Linked DNA regions of Homo sapiens. The protein of the gene in region 1 purifies or fractionates together with the protein of each later gene. This does not show direct contact. Each region holds a gene or a part of one and is shown on either strand. Other genes may lie near its edges.

The links. Proteins that work in one complex are often made in the same cells at the same time.
Region 2: the proteins of MMS19 (region 1) and PRIM1 purify together in Homo sapiens (affinity purification with western blotting; 3 studies listed by BioGRID and IntAct, with this or other methods). This does not show direct contact.
Region 3: the proteins of MMS19 (region 1) and DNA2 purify together in Homo sapiens (affinity purification with mass spectrometry; 4 studies listed by BioGRID and IntAct, with this or other methods). This does not show direct contact.
Region 4: the proteins of MMS19 (region 1) and POLE purify together in Homo sapiens (affinity purification with western blotting; 3 studies listed by BioGRID and IntAct, with this or other methods). This does not show direct contact.

The regions. Positions count from the first base shown.
Region 1 is NC_000010.11:97,491,003-97,496,453, forward strand, and holds part of MMS19 (MMS19 nucleotide excision repair protein homolog), read right to left. Parts: intron 1-5,451. UniProt on the Homo sapiens protein: Key component of the cytosolic iron-sulfur protein assembly (CIA) complex, a multiprotein complex that mediates the incorporation of iron-sulfur cluster into apoproteins specifically involved in DNA metabolism and genomic integrity.
Region 2 is NC_000012.12:56,738,824-56,742,323, reverse strand, and holds part of PRIM1 (DNA primase small subunit), read left to right. Parts: intron 1-486; coding exon 487-578; intron 579-747; coding exon 748-889; intron 890-2,960; coding exon 2,961-3,030; intron 3,031-3,500. UniProt on the Homo sapiens protein: Catalytic subunit of the DNA primase complex and component of the DNA polymerase alpha complex (also known as the alpha DNA polymerase-primase complex - primosome/replisome) which play an essential role in the initiation of DNA synthesis.
Region 3 is NC_000010.11:68,413,564-68,416,768, reverse strand, and holds the end of DNA2 (DNA replication ATP-dependent helicase/nuclease DNA2), read left to right. Parts: coding exon 1-60; intron 61-1,661; coding exon 1,662-1,730; 3' UTR 1,731-2,705; downstream 2,706-3,205. UniProt on the Homo sapiens protein: Key enzyme involved in DNA replication and DNA repair in nucleus and mitochondrion.
Region 4 is NC_000012.12:132,677,343-132,680,842, forward strand, and holds part of POLE (DNA polymerase epsilon catalytic subunit A), read right to left. Parts: intron 3,346-3,500; coding exon 3,265-3,345; intron 2,881-3,264; coding exon 2,836-2,880; intron 2,705-2,835; coding exon 2,612-2,704; intron 2,310-2,611; coding exon 2,155-2,309; intron 378-2,154; coding exon 236-377; intron 102-235; coding exon 21-101; intron 1-20. UniProt on the Homo sapiens protein: Catalytic component of the DNA polymerase epsilon complex. Participates in chromosomal DNA replication.

The sequences.
Region 1 (5,451 bases):
CATGAACTGAAACACCTATTTCTGGGTTACGAACCACAAAAGGGCATTGCAACATTTGGGAAGGTAGAAAAGGGTACTTTCTTGGAACAGCCTGGCTATAGTACAGAAAACTCTGCTGAAACAACCCATCTAAAAACTAATTTCAATAATGGGCACAGAAGGAGTTAATAATTGTACAGATGAAGCCATAGGGGACTAACAACTGTTAATAGCAAAGGATATCAATGAACTGAATCATTTTTCTTCAGCAATACCATCAAAACCCTCTGTGGATGTCAGGCTAGGGTCTATATTTGGAACGAAGGCTCTAAGACAAGAAGTGCCAAATAGGGCCCATTCAGTACCTTCTATTTTTTCATTTTTTTAAAAAAATTGAGGTAAAGGCCGGGCGTGGTGGCTCACGCCTATAATCCCAGCACTCTGGGAGGACGAGGTGGGTGGATCATGAGGTCAGGAGATCGAGACCAGTCTGGCCAATATGGTGAAACCCCATCTCTACCAAAAATTAAAAAATTAGCTGGGTGTAGTGGCATGCGCCTGTAGTCCCAGCTACTCAGGAGACTGAGGCAGAAGAATTGCTTGAACCTGGGAGGCAGAGGTTGCAGTGAGCCGAAATCACGCCTGGGCGATAGAGCGAGACTCCGTCTCAAAGAAAAAAAAAGAAAAATGCTTCTTTGGCATTCTGCATACATTAATATGAAAATGGCTGCTTTATAATTACAAATAAATAGCCATTTGCATGTGGTTCCTTGAATCCCAGTATGTGGGTGAACTCTCCTGGCAAAGCCCTTTAGTCTTCATATAGCTTTCACAAAATTCTTGAATTAATGCAGCACAAACATAAAAGTGACTATAAGGCCGGGCACGGTGGCTCATGCCAGTAATCCTAGTACTCTGGGAGGCCGAGGTGGGTGGATCACCTCAGGTCAGGAGTTTGAGACCAGTCTGGCCAACGTGGCAAAAACCTGTCTCTACTAACACAAAAACTAGCCGGGTGTGGTAGCGCATGCCTGTAATCCTAGCTACTCCGAAGGCTGAGGCAGGAGAATCACCTGAACCTGGGAGGCAGAGTTTGCAATGAGCTGAGATCATGCCATTGCACTCCAGCCTGGGCTACAGAGTGAAACTCAATCTAAAAAAAAAAAAAAAAAAAAGTATAAAAGTAGAAAAAATTAGAGAAAAATGAGGCCGGGCGCGGTGGTTCACGCCTGTAATCCCAGCACTTTGGGAGGCCGAGGCGGGCGGATCACGAGGTCAGGAGATTGAGACCATCCTGGTTAACACAGTGAAACCCTGTCTCTACTAAAAAAAAATACAAAAATATTAGCTGGGCGTGGTGGCGGGCGCCTGTAGTCCCAGCTACTTGGGAGGCTGAGGTAGGAGAATGGTGTGATCCCAGGAGGCAGAGCTTGCAGTGAGTGGAGACGGAGCCACTGCACTCCCACCTGGGCGACTGAGTGAGACTCTGTCTCAAAAAAAAAAGAAAAGAAAAGAAAGAAAAAATTAGAGAAAAATGAGATAATAAAGCTATTACAAGACCGTAAAAAAAAGTAAGGAAGATGGTGGCCAGGCATGGTGGCTCACACCTGTAATCCTTGCACTTTGGGAGGCCGAGGCAGGTGGATTACTTGAGGTTAGGAGTTTGAGACCAGCCTGGCCAACATGATGAAACCCTGTTTCTACTAAAAAAAAAAAAAAATAGAAAAATTAGCTGTCCATGATGGCATGGGCCTGTAATCCTAGCTGTTTCGGAGGCTGAGGCAGAAGAGTCATTTGAACCCAGGAGGCTAAAGTTGCAGTGAGCCAAGATCGCGCCACTGCACACCAGCCTGGGCAACAGAGCAAGACTTCATCTCCCAAAAAAAAAAAAAAAAAAGCCATATGTTCGTTTTCATTCAACATTTACTGAATATTATAAATAGGGTACCATGTTAGGGCTTAAGATAGAAATATGGGCAGGGAGTTTTGGGGAAGTCCATAGTCTGTTGGAGCAGAAAGACAAACATTCATTCATTTATTCATTTTTGAGACAGAGTCTTGCTCTGTCACCCAGGCTGGAGTGCAGTGGTGCCATCTTTGGCTCAATGTAACCTCTCCCTCCAGGGTTCAAGTGATTCTCCTACCTCAGCCTCCCAAGTGGCTGCGACTACAGGCACACCACCATGCTGGGCTGATTTTTAAAGATTTTTGTAGAGACAAGGTCTCACTATACTGTACAGGCTGGTTTCGAATTCTTGGGCCCAAGCAATCCTCCCACCTCAGCCTCCCAAAGTGCTGGGATTACAGGCATGAACCACCATGCCTAGCCCAGAAAGACATTTAAAACAATCACAGTAGGCTGAGGCTAGAGGATCGCTAGAGGTCAGGAGTTGGAGACCACCTTGGGCAACAAAACAAGGCCCTGTTCGCTACAAAAAAATTAGCCAGGTGTGGTGGCACGGGCCTGTAGTCTCAGCTACTCTGGAGGCTGAGGCCAGAGGATCACTTGAGCCCAGAAGTTCTTCGAGGTCACACTGCACTCCAGCTGGGGCAACAGAGTGGACCCTGCTTCTAAAATAAATAAATAAAACAATCACAGTGTAACAAGTTCTGTGTTACCACAGTGATATAAACAGAGATTGGGTTGGCATGAGAAAGAAGTAAAATTCCTGGGTTTATGGACCATGGGCCACTAACTTTAAGTGATTAATTCTTTTAATGGTGCAAATTATCCAAAATTAAAAATAACCAGGGTTGGCATGGTGGTTCACACCTGTAATCTCAGCACTTTGGGAGGCCAAGGCAGGCAGATCACCTGAGGTCGGAAGTTTAGAGACTTGCCTGACCAACATGGAGAAACCCCATCTCTACTAAAAATACAAAATTAGCCGTGTGTGGTGATGCATGCTTGTGATCCCAGCTACTCGGGAGGCTGAGGCAGGAGAATCACTTGAACCTGGGGGGCAGAGGTTACGGTCAGCAGAGATCGCACCATTGCACTCCAGCCTGGGCAACAGAGCAAAACTCCATCTCAAAAGCAAACAAACAAACAACAACAACAACACACCCGTAATACCTGGAAATACTATTAATTATGCACTTGGACTCCTGGGATGAAGAAAGCTAACAGAGAGTTAATTTTCCTAACGGTATTTTCGCTGGTATCAAGGAAAAAATCAGTGTAAGTTCATTTCCCTTTATAGGAGGGTCTAAGATTTTCCAACACGTTCAAGATTTGCTCTTAAAAATGGACCTACTAGCACCTCCTAACTACCCACACTTTCCTTAGCAAGGCACCAGTTTGTGTGGGGGCACTGAGAAGTCAAAGGAGTATTCATGTGATCATTGACACAGAATGCACAAACAGATCTCTGTCTGATGGAGTTGAAGCCTCTTGAGAATCTGGACTAGCAGCCAAAGGGAAGTGAGGGGAAGCGGGTAGGGTGGGAGGATGAGAAGGAGCAGGAGAGAGAAAAATCCCAATCAGGACTAAGTTCCAATCAAGCTCTCAAAATGCCCTTTCTGCTGATAATGCCTCAGATATTTCACTAAACTGTATTTTACTGTTCTTTAATACTTTGACTTAAGGAATAGAGGTATTCTTAGGGAATCACAAACATGGAAAAACACAATACAATAAAGACTGAAATGAAGGAAAATCCAAATAACTAAAAGGAAAAAAATTATATCCATCACCTGCAAATTCAACGTGTTCAAAAATCACATTCTCTGAAAATCAGCTCTCGTCCTAATTTTGGACAAAGTATTTCTTTTCCTCATCCTCTGGTTCAAAACCTTGGGGTCTTCTTAGAGTCCTCTATCTCCTTCAAGCCCTATAATAACTAGTTAGAACTCAAATTCCACAGATTCTTCCTTCAACATTTCTCATTGCATTCACTCAAGCAGTTTTTATTGTGTACCTACTGATGCCAATTTCAGGAGATTCTGGTGGTACAACTGGGAGGGTAGGATGTGGAGATGTATACAGCAACAGCTACTAAACTAGTCCACTAAATACATGAGTGGTTGAGAAATAAGTGCGTACTACAAAGATTCTGACGTATGAGATGCTGTCTGGCTGGGTTAATCAGGAAACCCTTGGGGAGGGGTAGGGAACTCAAGCTGGGCCTTGACTCTCAGGTCTAACTTCGATTACACAGAGCTAGTGAAGGGAATTGGGAAGGAAAGCACTCAGGGAACTACGAATAAAGGTGGCTGCCTGGAATTAAACGTCCAGGGAGCAGTGAGAAAAAAAGGCTGGGGCCAGGTAGTGGCAGGCTTTGAAGGCTTGCCCAAGAGGCCTTTAACCCTTAGGCTGCCAGGTTATTTCCCTCCCATCGCCTGCAGCTTCTTTACAGCTGACACTTTCACCAGGAACCCAGGTACAAAACAAAGGTGGCAGCAGCTGCTTTTGTGATCAAAGGGTGCTCCTTCTGCATTTAAATTTGCAGGCTGCTACTCTGAGTGACTGAACAGGAAGCTAGCTGGTCCCTTTAGCGCTAACAAAGCTTGATTTAGGCTGAAAGATTAGAAAGCACATCTTATTCTATAAACGCTTCAACACTCTGTTATCCTTCAACAACCCTAACTAGGGCTGTGATCTAAGATTGACAATATTAACTTAATCCTTGTCAAATTTGTTTTCATTTTATGGCTCCCTGGCTCAAGGATCTACAACAACTCTTAGTACAGATAACAGGTCATTCAAATTTCTCTGCCTGGAATCCAAAGTTATACACAATCCAACCCTACCAAACCTTTTCAACTTTTATCTGTTACTATTCCTTTGTACCAACTTTCTTTTCTTTTTGTTTTTTTGAGACGGAGTCTCGCTCTGTTGCCCAGGCTGGAGTGCAGGGGCGCGATCTCCGCTCACGGCAGCCTCTGCCTCCCAGGCTCAAGCGATTCTCCAGCCTCAGCCTCCTGAGTAGCTGGGATTACAGGCATGCACCACCATGCCTGGCTAATTTTTGTATTTTCAGTAGAGCGGGGTTTCACCATGTTGGCCAGGCTGGTCTCAAACTCCTGGGCTCAAGCAATCCGCCTACCTTGTTCTCTCAAAGTGTTGGCATTACAGGCGTGAGCCACTGTGCCCACCACCAACTTTCTTTTCTTAGGAGGGCTAAATTACAACAGGGCTAGTGTTACAGTCTTAAATCAGTTGAGTTGAATTCAAATTAAGCAACAGTTTAGACCATTTTTTTTCAGAAAGAAACAAAAATATAAATTTTGCAAAAACGTTTGTAAGAATTTAGCAGTCCCAGTGGCTCATGCCTGTAATCCCAGCACTTCGGGAAGCTGAGATGGGAGGATGGCTTCAGTCCTGGAGTTAGAGACCAACCTAGGCAACATGGTGAAACCTCGTCACTACAATACAAAAATTAGCCGAGCGCAGTGGCACACTCCCTGTTGTCCCAGCTACTTCGGGAGGCTTGAGGCAGGAGGATTGCTTGAGCATAGGTCGAGGCTACA
Region 2 (3,500 bases), on another chromosome or scaffold:
GCATGAGCCACTGTGCCCGGCCGGATACAGCTGTTGAGTTTAACATTTGTGGGGTGGGTTGTTTTGTTGTTGAGATGGAGTCTCACTCTGTTGCCCAGGCTGTAGCACAGTGGCACAATCTCAGCTCACTGCAACCTTCACCTTGCAGATTTAAGCAATTTTCCTGCCTCAGCCTCCAGAGTAGCTAGGATTACAGATGTGCACCACCATGCCCTGCTGATTTTTCTATTTTTAGTAGAGATGGGGTTTCACCATGTTGGCCAGGCTGGTCTCGATCTCCTGACCTCACGTGATCCACCCACCTCTGCCTCCCAAAGTGCTGGGAGTACAGGCATGAGCCACCACGCCCAGTCAACATTTATATTTCAAGAAATGTTAATAACTACTTTCTGAATATTTGTAAGACACCCTTGTGGTAATACATACTTAAAACTAAATTGTTCATTGATGTTCCCTAAATGAGTCTGTTCCTTAATGACCCATCACCAATTCATGATGAACTTCAACAAAGCTTCCAAAAGTCTCACAATTCACTTCAGCGTTGGGAGCACTTGAAGAAAGTAGCCAGCAGATATCAGGTATATGCCACTGAAATCTGTATTACAGATATAATAATGCAATTCTTAATTAAATTGATTGCTTTGCCTAGTCAGTTAAAGATGGTTGAAGATCGTTTTTTTAACTTTCTTTAAAGAAATCTTCAACAGTTCCTACTGATCCTCATGTTGGCCTTGTATCTGCTTTTAGAATAACATCAAAAATGACAAATATGGACCCTGGCTGGAGTGGGAGATTATGCTCCAGTACTGTTTTCCACGGCTGGATATCAATGTCAGCAAAGGAATCAATCATCTACTGAAGAGCCCTTTTAGTGTTCATCCTAAAACAGGTACTACACAAGGAAACTAAGGAAAACTAAAAGAAAAATGAGTTGCTATTGGCTTTAGTAAGCATGGCATTAGGTCTGAATATATATAATGTCTATGATTTAAAGGTAGAAGAATTGCTCTGTCACCCAATACCTAAGTCAGTTAAGTAGCTACCAGATGAGTTTCTACTATGTAACTGTTTTTCAGTTGGGTTTCTGAGGTTCCATATTAGATTTGGAGAGGACCATCAAAATCTTAGGACAACAGCTCTCATTGTACAGATGAGAAAACAGTGGCCCAAGATGTAACCCATCCAAGGTCATAAAAAAAAAATTGTGTGTGACTGTATGTGGTAGCTTGCTCCTGTAATCCCAGCACTTGAGGAGGGCAAGGTGGGCAAATCACTTGAGCCCCAGAGTCTAACACCAGCCTAGGCCACATGTCTAAACACCCTTTGTACAAAAAATACAAAAATTAGCTAGACGTGGTGGTGCATGCCTGTAGTTCCAGCTACTCAAGAGGCTGAGGCAGGAGGATCACTTGAGCCTGGGAAGTTGAGGCTGCAGTGAGCTGTGATGGTGCCACTGCACTCCAGCCTGGGCAACAGAGTGAGACCCTGTCTCAAAAAAAAGAAAAAAAGAAAGAAATGAAATGAACTCTACTCCTAGCACTGACAAAAACAAAAAAAAATTTTTTTCGAGAAAGAGTCTCACTCTGTCACCCAGGCTGGAGTGCACTGGTGCAATCTCGGCTCACCGATCGGCTCAAGCGATCCTTCTGCCTCACCCTCCTGAGTAGCTGGTACTACAGGCATGTGCTACCACAGCCAGCTAATATTTTGTAGACAGGGTTTTGCCATGTTGCCCAGGTTGGTCTTGAACTCTTGAGCTCAAGCAATTCACCTGCCCCAGTCTCCCAAAGTGCTGGGATTACAGACAAGAGCCACTGCGCCCAGCCTCATTACGTCACTTTTGAGATGTGTTAAATTCTATATGGTATCCTAGGGGGGTATTATAAAAGAGTAGAGGAATTTCTATTTTATTTCCTAAATGCTTTTTAAAGGTGTCTGACATGTGGGTATCTGTATTGATCTCAAATAAACCAAGCCAATGTAAATATTATAGTTTCATCTATTTTGTTCTATTTTCAGGACTCACTAACTCTGAGATTGTTCTGAACTTAAATATGGAATATTTAAATATACTTTATTTCTAAATATAGAAATAAAAGTAGGGATAAGAGCAACTGGGAAATAGCTCAACAGTCTTCACATTTGCTTATTGGTTTTTGTTTTTGTTTTTTTTCTTTCCTTTTTTTTCGAGACAGAGTCCCACTCTGTCACCCAGGCTGGAGTACAGTGGCGCGATCTTGGCTCACTGCAGCCTCTGCCTTCCAGGTTCAAGCAATTCTCTGCCTCACCCTCCCAAGTAGCTGGGATTACAGGTACCCGCCACCACACCCAGCTAATTTTTGTATTTTTAGTAGAGACGGGGTTTCACCATCTTGGCCAGGCTGGTCTTGAACTCCTGACCTTGTGATCCACCCTCCTCAGCCTCCCAGAGTGCTGGGATTACAGGCGTGAGCCACTGCACCTGGCTGGTTTTTTAAAGAGAAATAAAAGGCATGCTGGACATGGTCATTCACACCTGTAATCCCAGCAACTCAGGAGGCTGAGGCAAGAGGATTGTTTGAGGCCAGGAGTTCTGGGCAACATAGTGAGACCCCAACTCAACAAAAATTGAAAAACTGGCCAGGCCAGGAGCAGTAGCTCACGTCTATAATCCTAGCACTTTGGGAGACAACTGAGGTGGGAGGATCACTTGAGCCCAGGACATCAAGCCTGCAGTGAGCTATGACCATGCTACTGTATGTACTCTAGCATGGGTGACAAAGTGAGGCATTAACTCTAAAAAAGAGTAAGGGCACAGCTAATGTGAAAGTAATTTATATTTCTAAATACTCTTCTTAACAGATAAGTTTAACCCTTTGTCTAAGCCTTAAATAAAAATTTTAACCAAAAATAACCTGTAGGAGATGACTATAATGATTTATAGTCCACAATCATCAGTTTATAACTTTTGTGTCTTACAGGTCGCATATCTGTGCCTATTGATTTGCAGAAAGTGGACCAGTTTGATCCATTTACTGTTCCGACCATAAGGTATGTTTCAGATCATTGATCACTCCTTGTTTGTAATTGTTGTTATGAATTTTAAATAAATTGAATTAGCCTCCTTAGAGAAGTAGTTGCATGGGAATGGTATATTTGGTTATGGAAACCAAATAAGGTTCAAAGGTTAGATGACGATGCCCTAATAGAACAATACAAGATTTTCACCTGCTGTTATGTAAGAAAAAGATTTTAAGGTCAAGTAAATTTAGGAAATTCTGACTTAAACAGATTAAAAGTATCTTTTACTACAGTATTTCACAGTCTTTCATATGATAATATGCATGAAAAACTCCAAGAAGAGATCATGGTGTTTAGAATATCCCAAATTTAGCTGGCCGCATAATTTTTTTACAGTAAATTTTATGGGATTCACATGCTATTATACACTGGATAATGCTGATCAGAAACCAACATTAAACTTCTCTTGTTCGTGGTGAGGCGCGGTGGCTCATGCCTGT
Region 3 (3,205 bases), about 29 Mb from region 1:
TCACTAAATTGCTATCCTCCTTTGGAGAAGCTGCTTAATCATTTAAACTCAGAAAAATTAATATCCTTTTTCTTCTGTATATGGTCACATTTGATTGCACTGTTGTGAGTATTTATTTGCTTGTTTAAATTAAAGCTCTCACTATGTTGCTTAAGCTGGTCTTGAACTCCTGGGCTCAAGCGATCCTCCTGTGTAGGCCTCCCAAAGTGCTGTGATTACAGATGTGAGCCACGGCCCCCAGCCTATAACCCTTTTTTAATCCAGAACAAATGATTAGATTAAAATGGAGTATTATTTATTTTATATACAGGGCCTTGCTTTGTCACCCAGGCTGCAGTGCAGTGATATGATCAGAGCTCACTGCACCCTCAATCTCCCAGGCTAAAGTGATCTTCCTACCTCAGCCTCCCCAGTAGCTGGGCCCACAGGTGCATTCCACCATGCCCAGCTAATTTTTGTATTTTTTTGTAAAGACAGGGTTTCACCATGTTGCCCAGGCTGGTTTTGAACACCTGGGCTCAAGTGATTCACTCGCCTCCTCCCAAAGTGCTGGGACTACAGGTGTCAGCCACCACATTCAGCCTTTTTTTCCCCCAAGAAGTGGTGCCTAACTTCACTCAGGCTGGAGTGTAGTGGCAGGATCACTGCTCACTACAGCCTTGACCTGGACTCAAATAGTCGTCCCACCTTACCTTTCTGAGTATCTGGGACCACAGGTACGTACCACCACGCTTGGCTAATTTTTTAAAATTTTTAATAGAGAGGAGGTGAGCCACTGCACCTGGCCTTAAGATAAATCGTTTTTTAAAAATGTGTATGGGCTGGGCCTGGTGGCTCACACCTGTAATCCTAGCACTTTGGGAGGCTGAAGCAGGTGGATTGCGAGGTTGAGATTGAGACCATCCTGGCTAACATGGTGAAACCCCGTCTCTACTAAAAATACAAAAATTAGCTGGGCATGGTGACGTGTGCCTGTAGTTCCAGCTACTCATGATGCTGAGGCAGGAGAATCGCTTGCACCCGGGAGGCGGAGGTTGTAGTGAGCCGAGATCTAGCCTGGTGGCAGAGCGAGACTCCGTCTCAAAAAACAAAACAAAACAAAACAAAAAAAACAGTGTATGAAGTTCTTAGGCTTCATAAGAACTTCATACTTCTTATGAAGGTATGAAGTAGGCTAAGATAAATAACTCTGAGGCTGGGCGTGGTGGCTCACGCTTGTAATCCCAGCACTTTGGGAGGCTGAGACAGGCGGACTACCTGAGGTTGGGAGTTCGAGACCAGCCTGACCAGCATGGAGAAACCCTGTCTCTACTAAAAATACAAAATTAGCCGGGCATGGTGGCACATGCCTGTAATCCCAGCTACTCGGGAGGCTGAGGCAGGAGAATCTCTTGAACCCAGGAGGCAGAGGTTGCGGTGAGCTGAGATCGCACCATTGCACTCCAGCCTGGGTAACAAGAGTGAAACTCCATCTCAGAAAAAAAAAAAAAAAAGATAAATAACTCCTGTTGCTTAAAGGCATAATTATTCATTGAATGCCATAAAGATCCTTATTTTTTTTTTGTGGTCCTGTAAGTCAAATTACAAAATGTTAAATAATAATGTCATAAATTTATGCCATTCCATATTGTGCTAAATATTTCTTCCTTAATTTATTTTACATCATTGATCTTCCATCAAGAGAACATGAAAGTCTTTGCCACATATTGGGTGACTTTCAAAGAGAATAAAACACTATTTCCCTTGCCTTTTCATACTAGGGCAGTATCTCCTCTAGCTAGTGCCCATACAGAAAATTCTATCACCATACAAAATTTAATGCAGTATTTATGTTTTAAAGCACAGGTGTACCGAAAACTGTGAAAAGTCTGAATTTATGGGTTCTATGCATGCATTTTTGCCTAACCTAGAGAAAGAGTTTGATAAATTTTTACCAGCTTTGAAGATGGATTAACTTTTGACTTTGAGCTTTAAACTTTTAAGTCAGACATTTCAGGACTAATTTGATTTTGTAGATATCATTGTAAGAACTTTATTTGAAAGACTGAATAAAGGGATTTGATTTGTTTTCATCATTTAAGCACAGTCTTGTGATGATGAGAACATAAGTGTGATTCTTTTCTGTATTTTGAGGTCCCTAATCCAAAGCCCATTTTGCTAGGATTTTTTCTGCTATCAGATGTGTTTTCACTCTAAACCTAGTCTTTTATGACATGAATTGATTACTTCCTGTTAATTTTCTATCCTCCCTTACTATCCTCCTTTTTTGTTTTCAGTATTCAGTATTTCAGTATTCTAGAGTAGATTTTGATATAAAAGAAAATAATTCTTACATCATCTTTTGCAACAAATTTTGTTTTCTGAATTGATAATAAATTTAAAAAGTTGATTCCTATTTTCACATATGTTCATATGCCCCTATGTTTGGGGGTATCACTCAGTTTTCCCTTTTTTGTGTAAAGATGTTTTGTAAAACAAAATTGTCTCAAAGTGATTATATTATATATATAAAAAGTAACAGATTTTAACAAAGGTTAAAAGATTCTTGGGGTAACAGATTCTTCTGGGGCTTGGAAATCTTCCATTTCTCTTGAGGGTTTTTTTTAATGAGTGTTAAATATGTTAAAATTTTTATTTCTACCTCATGTGTTTTTTTAAATTATTACTTGAAGTTTTTTATTTAATAAATTTTTTCTACTAATGGATCTTAACTGTGTCAATTATTATTAATACTGAATAATAATTAAACTCAGGGTTATCTAGCATGTTTTGTTTTTTTTTTTTTTGAGACGGAGTCGCCCAGGCTGGAGTGCAGTGGTGCGATCTTGGCTCACTGCAAGCTCTGCCTCCCGGGTTCACGCCATTCTCCTACCTCAGCCTCCCGAGTAGCTGGGACTACAGGTGCCCGCCACCACGCCTAGCTAATTTTTTTTTTTGTATTTTTAGTAGAGACGGGGTTTCACCATGTTAGCCAGGATGGTCTCCATCTCCTGACCTCGTGATCCACCCACCTCGGCCTCCCAAAGTGCTGGGATTACAGGCGTGAGCCACCGCGCCCGGCCGCATGTTTTCTGATAGTGACAAGTGAAGTATTGATCATGCTAGAAAGCTGAAACCAAGCAGCATTGATATTATAAAGAGATTTATGAAGGGCACACAGGATGGGCTTGATCATGGAGAGGGGTTATAGATTAGATAGGACAAA
Region 4 (3,500 bases), on another chromosome or scaffold:
GTAACACAAGCAAAACTTACAGGTCGTTCAACAAGGTCATCTCGGCGGGTGATTTCTACCGGAAAAGCATTTCCTCGGTATCTGACATTGTACCAATGAGCCTGCAAAACACACAGTGTGCTAACTAGAGTTCTACATCCAGGAAAGTCTATTCTTCTGTGGATTCACCCATAATGATCATCTCCTGGCTGTTAGGAAATTCATGTGAGCAGCGACCCAACCCTGCCCCACTCACCACGTGGATCTTCAGGTCAATGGAGAGGCGGATGTGGTAGGGAACATCGTACTCGCGCATGTCCACAATGTTGTCCAACTGGTCAGCTATCTTCTTAGAGGTTTCCTCTTCATCAGTAATGACACCGCCCCTCTGCAGAACACTAGGAATTAACAAGAGAGCAACTAACTCAGCTGCCAGGGTCTGGAGGAGGTGAGACCAGAGTTCCAACTCAGTAGGAAGAGGTGAGACCAGAGTTCAAACCGAGGAAACACAAAAGGTAAATTGATGTGGTTTCAACGACCAAGGCAGTCCTTCCTTTAAGAATGGCTTGGACTGGGCCAGGCGTGGCAGCTCACGCCTGTAATCCCAGCACTTTGGGAGGCCAAGGAAGGCGGATCACCCGAGGTCAGGAGTTCGAGACGAGCCTGGCCAACACGACGAAACCTCATCTCTACTAAAAATACAAAAATTAGCCAGGCGTGGTGGCGCATGTCTGTAACCCCAGATACCTGGGAGGCTGAGGCAGGAGAATCACTTGAACCCAGGAGGCGGAGGTTGCAGTGAACCCAGATTGCGCCACTGCACTCCAGCCTGGGCAACAGAGCGAGACTCCATCTCAAAAAAATAAAGAATAGCTTGGATGATAACTCTACAGACAGGAGAAAATTCAGTGTAAGATGTATTCATTTTATATGATGTGAGTTACACCCCAACTAGAAAAAAAAAAAGAGGGCCAAGCATGGTGGCTTATGCCTCTAATCCCAGCACTCTGGGAGGCAGGAGGATCGCTTCGGCCCAGGAGTTCAAGACAGGCCTGGGCAACATAGGGAGACTCATCTCTACAAAAGTAATAATAATAATAATAATAATTAGCCAGGCATGGGGTACACACCTGTGATCCCAGTTACTCAGGAGGCTGAGGTGAAAGGATCGCTTGAGCCCAGGAGTTCGAGGCCACAGTGAGCTATGATTGCACCACTGCACTCCAGCCTGGGCAACAGAGCAAGACCCTGTCTCAAAACAAATAAGTAAATAGAAGAAAAAAGAAAGAAAACATTAAGTGCTGCCAGTCAGGAGAGCCAGGCATGACCATCCCACCATGGTCCTGATACTCAGGAGGCTGCCTCATGCAGGCTGAAGAGCAGGCCTGGGCTTCACACAGCCTGTGCATGGGTCTCTGCCATGTCTAAAGAAGTGGCCCACCATTGCGGCCACTATTGGCCTATAAGCTCAAATACTGAACGGGCTATTCAGGGGGAAAAAGACAGACGAGTCTCAGATATGGCTCAAGTCTCTGAGGACTCAGTCTCTGATCACACCTTCCAATATTTCAAAAAGCAACTTGTGGCATTGCCAGGGAAGGCGGACTCCGGGTAGGGACTGTAGAAATGTTCAGCATCCCAAACTGATCCTCTTTTGTCAGAGGGTAAGGTAGGTTCTTCCGAAGTCATCTAAACTTCATTACTCAAGATTTTCTCTTCCTAACTGGTTACTTTGCATCCTATTATTGTTGATGCTCAAATACTTGAAGAACAGTGTTTAGTGTTCTAGGCTTAAATTTCTGTGGACGATACCCAAGGTTCTCTGGAGATGTGCTGTGTAAATCTCAGCACTTAATGAAATTCATAGATGGATTGTGTTAGGGCAGTAGGATGAGGGATCTTTTCCCCTCTAAGGTGACTTTACTATTACAACCACTCAATTTTAGAGCCATAAACCCACCCCTCCATTGGAAAAGAGAGCTAACACATAAAATATAACCTGGGAAGCCACTGTTTATTTAACACAGAACATACAGAAATCTCTACCTAATTGCTCAAGTTTTCCGTATCAAACAGAGCCAGCCATTAAGGTAACTTTGTTGCTACGTGTTCCTGTCTCCTATCCATCTTGTCGTTCTGAACCGCTGATGCTTTGCTCACAAGACCAAAGTTTACCTGGAAAGCAGAGCTGTGTACGCGTCGCTGGCGTGATCCTGCTCCCTGTTCTTCTTCACGGCAGGGGAGATCTCCTTCCTCACTTTGACAAGATCCTCCACAGTGTGGAAGGACAGCCTGATGTAATTTCGCTTCAAACCCACCAAGTGATTTGGCTATAATGCGAAGAGATCACGCTCATTGGTTCAAGAGAAATAGGACTTTATGGGTGAGAGGGTAAACACTCAAAGGTAAACACACAAGTCAAAGAGTTGGCGACTTCAAGGCACCTTGTCCAACTCTGCACGTGGCACCAACTAACACCACTAGAGCTCTTTGGAAGGAATTTTATAGACGGTCACCACACCGCCCCATCACCCAACAGATGACCTGAATTTCTACCTCTTCCGATCCCACCTGCCAGGAACAATGTAGACTCTGGCCTCATTTACCCCTGGAAAGTCTGGGTGATACTCACCAAGTCCAGATCCTCTTTGGGGACAGTCTCCACTTTTGCAATTTTGCCCTGAAACTTCTTGGAGAGAAAAGATGAAACTTCTCGCTCACAACCCTAATCAGGATCAGAATGAAAAGGCTTTCCATTGGTAAAATACATTTCCTTCCTTGCCTATTTCCCAGTTGCAAAGCCCACCACAGAATGACACACAGGTCGTCTGACCTGAGTCTATGAAACACACTCACCTTTCTGGTCGCAATGTAGAAATACGGTTTATAGGGCAAAGCCACCTGTTAAGAGTCACCAACCCATCCAGGGGTGATGAGAAAGAAGAAAGCGAGAGAAAAGTGAAAACACATTGCTTGCTCCTATATCCCATGAACAGCCTAGGGCCAGGGTAGCCTTGACCTTGGTAGCATACAGGAAGTCAGAATGCGCACTTTTCACAGGGGCAAGAATCTGAAAGACACGCTACTTCTCACCATTCAGAGTCTTCCTGAACTGACCTCTCTCAGGACATCTTACGTGATGACTGATGGGGCCTCCAGGGGCCCGAGTTCTGCTGGGCTATGGGCTGCTGTGCACTGGAAGCCTCCCATGCCCTCCCTGACAGTCACAGAGCTACATGAACACCCATAAAAGTGGGTTTTAGCTTGTCGCAGTCAGGGGCTTACCTTAAATCTGCTTCCGTCATCTTGAATAAAGTAGTAATCCACTGCACTGCCTAAGCGCTTATCTTCATCTAAAATCTCGGTCTACAAGAGAATCAGTCAACACAGACACAAGACCATCCTCTACACAGTTAGAGAAACTTTCCTCCTACCTTTCGGGAAACTCAGCACTTTAGAAACAAACCCTCTCATCTAGGTCTTTACTCCACCCCTACATTAACACTACCAGCCTTATTCAC